2 linked regions of the Homo sapiens genome follow. The protein of the gene in region 1 purifies or fractionates together with the protein of each later gene. This does not show direct contact. Each region holds a gene or a part of one and is shown in the gene's direction. Other genes may lie near its edges.

Region 1 (3,654 bases):
TTAAACCCTGTGTGCCTTAGGTATCTGCAGGCACCAACAGAGTTGTGAAAATCAAAAGTAGTATAAAGAACATGTAGCTATACATTGATCACTTTGAAGCTACCTGATGAGAACCCTAAAGTTAACTATCCCAGAGCTTTCGCACTTCCTCTCTGAAAGGTATCCTCAGATGACCGTCACTGTGTCCCATGTACTGACCCTTGTAGAGAGAAACCATTCATTGGAAGAACTGTCCTGTGGCAGTCGGTGCCCATTAGCTTAAAAACGTAAAAAGACCCAGCATTCTGAGTCTTCACATATAATCAGTGTACAGATATCCCCTCGGAAGATGGCAGTAATGAGCCCAACTTTCTTGAACATCAAGGGGAAAAATTAAAAACTGAAGTTTGCTAAATGTGTGTTTTGCAGGTTGGACAATCTGCTCAATATGGCTTATGGAGTAAAGAGGTAATGATAGAGGTTCATGATACTCATAATCCCTTTCCACAGTTGATTGGTTTCTTTGATTTTGGGAGTGCTATTCACACCCCTCATAAGTTTTTGTTGGGTTTTATTTTGCATGTGCAACCTAATGAAAAGCTGCTCTTTGAAGCACAATTGACTCAAGAAATTTTTATACCACCGGATGCCACCTGGTCTTTTAAAAACCCATCATTTGTTTCGTATTGCGTTACGACGTTACAGCATGTTTACGTATGTGTTGATCCCTTCCCCTGCCAATCCTGCTTAATTCATGAAGCCAGTTCTAAATATATTTCTTTGCTATTGTGGATGATATTCAGTACAGTGAATAATGGTCATTTCATAACTTATTAATATCTCAGTAGTCTAGCATGTCACTGCAAAGCCACACACAGACCTTGGTCAAAACATGAAATAGTTTATATATTTGTTGGGGGAGGAGAGTTACTAAAATTCTTGGGGATGGAAAAGGTATACGTTCATTGCTATAACCAACCTCTGTTTTTATTTTTTGTGTGTATGTGTGTATTTCCTATTCTGTTTAGCAGGTTTTCTCCAATGACCATTGACGGAATGACCAGTTTGGCTGGAATTAATATCCCTGGGCACCCTGGAACAGGGTGGTGTATATTTGTGTACAACCTGGCTCCTGACGCAGATGAGAGTATCCTGTGGCAAATGTTTGGGCCTTTTGGAGCTGTCACCAATGTGAAGGTCATCCGTGACTTTAACACCAATAAATGCAAAGGTTTTGGATTTGTGACTATGACAAACTATGATGAGGCTGCCATGGCGATAGCTAGCCTCAATGGATACCGTCTGGGAGACAGAGTACTGCAGGTCTCCTTTAAGACAAACAAAACGCACAAAGCCTAATGAGCTCTTGTCCTCAGTCCATTTATATATGAAAACTATACAACAAAGGCAAGTTAAGAGAAACTTTATACATTAGTAAATGTCTTTGTAAGTCAGTGTTGAGATGGGGATAAAATGACTACTTAGCATCCTAAGAAATATGTGAGATTTTTTATTGCTAGTATTTGAATTAAAACTTCTTAAATATCTTTTATGTTTGAATATGGACAAGAGGTACAGGGTTTTTACCTGTCACATTGCATTCTATTGCCTTCTTTGAAGAAGGTGGACCTTTTAAAGTGTTTCAGCTAAGGGAAGACATTTCTTTTCTTTTTACATAACTGCCTTGAACCTGTGAGTAAATATTGAGGCTTTGTGTTGTAATTCTTCAGTTGGTTGTGTCTTTTTTTTCCCCCCTTTTTTTCCTTTTTCTGATTAGCTTTGTGTTTGGTTTACATTTAAAGCATTGCTGTTATGTCTGTTTAAGAAAAGTATTTTGAAGTTTACATTTTTATTTATGAAGTTTAAAACAGTATTTATTTTGTAATTATGATTTGGGTTGGGGAAGGGGGGGCTACATTATAAACGCTTATTGTAAGAATACTGGAGAACTTTTCGTAAAGCAGTACCTTGCCAAAGAGATAAGAGCCTCTTTGATGTGGGTTTAAAAAAAGCATCTATTTTTATAAAAAAGAAAATTTGGAGAAACTTTTTACTGGTCCTGGAACAAATATTTTGACTTGAATACTTTGAGAAATCTCTTCATATGACACCTAGTGAGCTTTTAAAATTTACCAGGAAATTTGCAGCGGTTGGAAAATTTAGAAAGATTTATGGTGTAGAAAATACTTTTGAGATCTTTGTATGAAAGGAGTAGAATCAATGGGGGGAAACACTGCTGGTTTCATTTTTGTAATCACCAGTGGAGCGTCTGATCATCCTGGTTATTATGTGATAGGTGGCTCACATTGATTTGTGATTTTGAAACAAATAAAAAAAATTTACAAAAGAATATATAAGAGCAGGCAAGAAATTTAAATTACCGAGAGATGGGGGAAAAAATCTGTTCTTCCTAAAGAAATCCCTTCAGATAGAGCTCATGGTGTTTAGTGATGTACTTGCAGTATTGTTTGAAGAATTGTTTTGTCTTAAGGAAAAAAGACGTTGCACATGATTTGTACTGCAGCAAATCAGCAAAAGTGATCTGAGTTGGATATATTTGAAGGTATTTTGAAAGTTACGTTCAAGGCTAACACCTGAGCTTTGTGTAATGTAAATAAGACCTTGTGTTTATGAACCTTTCAGCTAATTTAATTTTTTTTCCCTTACATGCCAAGTGATGTTCAGGTTTTGAATGTTTTTGTATCAGTTTTTTCCTTTGTAAATGGCATTAACATTGTTACTTGAGGTCTTGCTTAATCACTTTTGTTGTCCTGAGGACTTGAATTTACAGTGCATCAGATTTGTTGCAAATTTTGTCTGTAGATAGTCTAGCTTCAGCTGTTTATGGTGATGCTACATTTTGGTTTATAAATATGTTTGTGGTATAAAAAAATGAGTATAACCATAGGTTTTGAACAAATTTCCTTACATTTTTCATACAAAAATCATAAATATCTGTATGCTATTGAAATTTAACTTTGTATGATGCTTAAAAACCACTATTTGGGGAAATAATAAAATAAGTCTTTACCATGTATGAAAGAAATTTTAAAAAATACAAAATATTTTCTGATTAGCATCTAGCTTATAATAAATTTTCAAAAAAGCTGAAGGCAAAAATGCCTTCATCAGGATGCACTGAGAACTATATAGTTACGTCCTGCTTTTTGTATAAACTGAGATGCTCACATGCTTCCCCTTAGAACAGGCAATGTGCTATGCATAACATAGTTGTACATTATCTTTGCGGTTGCTTTGAGTTTTATTTTTTATTATTTAAAATTGTAGTTATAAAATTTTTCAGTATAGTACAGTACATATACTGTGAGGCGCGTGCTAAAGTGAATAAGCGAGTTTTCATGCTGACCCACTCAATGCTATTCAGAAATCAATTGGCTTAGCACTTTCTCATATCCTTAGGTGCATTTAGATTGCCAGAGTTAACCTTCTGCGTTTAAAAAAAGAAAAACACTAAAAAATAAAATACATGTATATACTTAAAAAAAAATAATAAGGTTTCCCTCAAGGGAAAACAGCAGCTACATGCTTCTTTCCTATACTACTGTAGCAAACCAAGGCATTGATGAGAGGGCATGCAAATTGTGCTTCACTTTACAGTGTTTTATCAGAGCACTTAATAAAATGTAAGGCTGGTATTTATTTGAAGTTGTACAG
Region 2 (3,654 bases), on another chromosome or scaffold:
AAGTTTAGGGTACATAGTGTAAACATTATGCTTTATGTTCTTAGGTCACTTGATTGACATGAAAATTTACCTAGTAAGTGTATGCAGATTGTGGGGTTATTATATAGTTTGATCATTTAAAGAGTATTGTATTTTTGTTATAATGTAAGAATCCTTTTAAGTCAGCTGCTCTTAATATTTTATTTGCAGAGGAAAGTATTTCTAGTAAAAAAGGTAGTAGGGTACACGTTTTTGACTGGTTATTAGCTTTTGATATGTCAGTGTAGCTTGTTATACTTGTGTAGAAATTTTGCATTTTTAACAGTTACTCTTTACTTATGTAAAAATGCATTGCACCTTTAATGCGTAATTAAGGAAGATTTTCCTGTTGTGACTTTTTAAATTACCTGGAAACACAACTAGGTTAGATAGGCATTCCTGAGCATAGTATACAAATGTAAGCAACTGATACATTACAGTTCCACTATACTTCATGATCATAGGTTAATTGAAAATAGTTGGGATGATAGGCTTTGGGTTTTGAATTGAAAATCCATTCTAGTTTGAAAATTTGGAAAACACTTAATATTTTCCATGCTGTATATTATTTTAGACAAAGTGTGTTTTCTTAATGAGGCTTCAAAAGTAAATTTCGTTTTCATAATAAACAAGTATTCCTGTACTTTGTATTTACCATTCTAGTCTGAATGGACTTTTCTTTCTTTCCTCCTGTTAGTGAAGTAGATGAGCCAATAGGACCTACATTTTAAATCTTCACTTGTACAATTCCCCTTGGGTCCTTCTCTTCAGATTACTCCTCCATCTTTATCTTCTAAAAGTAAGATTAGCAGAATAAATTTCTGTGGACATGTGGCCTCTTGGTGTAGTAGATTTGGATAATGACAAGAGAAGAGGAAGGGACACAAAGAGTCGTTTGGTTGCATGACTCTTCATCTGTAAACTTTTGTTTCTTGGGCTTCTGGGTCAGAAAATGTTTCTCTAGGTAAGAATGTGAATGGAACGTCAGATGCAATTCTTTATCTGAAGTGTGTCTTGGAAGTTGATGCATGGTTATGCTTTAACTCTCCTATTTCATACTAATGTTCCATCTCGCCTTCTCATTCCCTTTTTCAACAGGGAGAATACTAAATGATTTCTGGATCTTTTTTACTTCAAACTACAAATATGGTCTTCTTTGTGTATCTTAGTTTTAGTAAAATAAAGATTTCTTTTAGGGTCTTTTCATGGGAAAACATCAATTAGGAACTCTGAAGAGGAGTTGTCAGAGAGTTGTACAAGTGGTAACATTTGGACAGGCACATATGTTGTCTATAATCTCAAGTAATTTTGAAATGTAAAAGTAAAAACATAGTTAGCAAATATTCATTATTTGTTCTACTGGAAATAAAAATACTAATTCAATGGATTTGAGTTTATGTAATAATTTACAGAGTTTTTCAATGTGTTTTTTCAGAATGGACATGTAAAATTTAGTTACATTCCAGGGAATTTTCAGGTGAAAATTAGTAGATAGTTAACATGAAAATTTTATATGAATTCATATTTTTTCTTGGACAATATGCTAATATTTATTGATTTCACAAATTTACAGCATATGGGTGATTTTGGAAGCATTCATAGACCCGGAATTGTTGTTGACTATCAAAACAAATCCACCAATGTGACAGTTGCTGCTGCAAGAGGAATAAAGAGAAAAATGATGCAGCCATTTAATAAGCCCAGTGGAACCTTTATCAAGAAACCCAAACTAGCAAAACCTATGGAGAAGATAAGCCTCAGCAAATCACCCAGTAAGTAAGAAAACATAATTGCTATGATTCAGGATACTTTTTATTTTTTAAAATTCCATACTTTTTGGTAATTTTTTCATGTTTATATACAGAAACTACATAACAATTATGATTGTAGAAGTTAGATCTGTAAATCCCCTATTGCAGTTAATAATTGGTCATGAATACCCAAAGATACTTTTAAAATGTACATAACCTGGTCCATTCCTTTTTCCTGAATCCTTGTGGTTGTGTATCAAACCCTCTACAGCTGAGAAAACAGGCACAGAATAGATAAATAATTTGCTGCCTAAGTCAAACAACCAGTGAATGGTAATGCCAGTATTTATTCCAGAGCAAGTCATGCTCTAGAAGTCCTGTTCTTAAACCTCCATATGATTGTAACAGAAATTTGCTTTGTATTCATTTTTCCCTTTTATTTTAAAATAACTTTTTCCCTAATTATGACATTATAGACATTTTAATATGTAATATTTGAAAAAACTGAAATTGCAATGTTAGATTCTTTCCTCAAAATATATTTTCTATAATATAAAATTTGAAAAAGGTTTAAAAGGTGTACTTAAATTACTTTCTCATCAGGCCTTATTGTTTAATAAGAAACAATATTCTGGAATTTCTGGAGTTCTGGAAACCTGATACTAAGCAGAGTATGTGTTGTGGGGATACCTTTAACAGTGTGTCAATTGATAGACTGTTATGTATCAAATTTGACATTTTATTAGACATTACTATAATAGAAAATTCAGTTGATTCTCTTGGGACCTATTTCAAAGATATATTTTGCACGTATGGTTAAATATTGCAAAAGTTTGATAAAGAAACTGATTTGCCCTTAAAGCAGATATATATGTATCCCTCCCCCATACCCCCTTTTTATATAACAAAACTTGAGAAAAGTGTTGTGTAGCTAAGAATGAAACTAAAATTCTTTAAATTATGCCTTCTCTGTCAGGTGTAAAATGGGCATTTAAAAAGATGATTGCTGAATTTTCCTCAATACAAGGTCTTGCTATGCTATAGTATAGACTATGTGACTTTATAGAAAATTAGTAGGAAAGGAACCCTATTCTGTCACTTGGCTAGAAGTACAACATGTCATAGTTTTAGCATATGAAAGGAAGATTAAATTACTTATTTGAGGTAATATATAAATAAGTAGATTTTTCAAAGGCCATCCAAAAGGATAAGCAGTGCATAAAAGGAAAAATTTAAGGGCAAATAGTTAAGTTTTTTTTTTTTTTTTTTTTTTAAGTATAAAGTTAAATGTATTATAAGAAAGAACCTGCTCACAGTGAGTTACCACTCCATACCCACTTGGATGGTCATAATAAAAAAAGGAAAATAACAAATGTTGACAAGGATATGGAGAAATTGAAACCCTCACACATTACTGATGGGAATGTAAAGCAGTGAAGCCACTGTGGGAAGCAGATTGGTGCTTCCTGAAACAATTAAACATAGACTGTCCATATGATCCAGCAATTCCACTTCTAGGTATTCTTCTATTCCAAAGAATTTAAAGTAGTATTCCAACAAAAATTTATTTATTTATTTATTTTTATTTTTGAGACAGGATCTTACTCTGTTGCCCAGGCTGGAGTGCAGTGGTGCAGTCTTGGCTCACTGCAACCTCTGCCCCTGGGTTCAAGCGATTCTCGTTCCTCAGCCTCCTGAGTAGCTGGGACTACAGATGTGCACCACCACGCCCAGCTAATTGTTGTATCTTGAGTAGAGATGGTTTCGCCATGTTGGCCAGGCTGTCTTGAACCCCTGGCCTCAAGTGATCCATCCGCCTCAGCCTTCCAAAGTGCTAAGATTACAGGCATGAGCCACTGTGCCTGGTCCAAACAAAAATTTATAT

Evidence for each region. Proteins that work in one complex are often made in the same cells at the same time.
Region 2: the proteins of ELAVL2 (region 1) and ZNF326 purify together in Homo sapiens (affinity purification with mass spectrometry; 2 studies listed by BioGRID and IntAct, with this or other methods). This does not show direct contact.

What each region holds. Positions count from the first base shown.
Region 1 is NC_000009.12:23,690,241-23,693,894, reverse strand, and holds part of ELAVL2 (ELAV-like protein 2), read left to right. Parts: intron 1-408; coding exon 409-447; intron 448-579; coding exon of another isoform or gene 580-601; exon of another isoform or gene 602-693; intron 694-1,007; coding exon of another isoform or gene 1,008-1,010; coding exon 1,011-1,338; 3' UTR 1,339-3,654.
Region 2 is NC_000001.11:90,008,497-90,012,150, forward strand, and holds part of ZNF326 (DBIRD complex subunit ZNF326), read left to right. Parts: intron 1-1,591; coding exon 1,592-1,790; intron 1,791-3,654. UniProt on the Homo sapiens protein: Core component of the DBIRD complex, a multiprotein complex that acts at the interface between core mRNP particles and RNA polymerase II (RNAPII) and integrates transcript elongation with the regulation of alternative splicing: the DBIRD complex affects local transcript elongation rates and alternative splicing of a large set of exons embedded in (A + T)-rich DNA regions.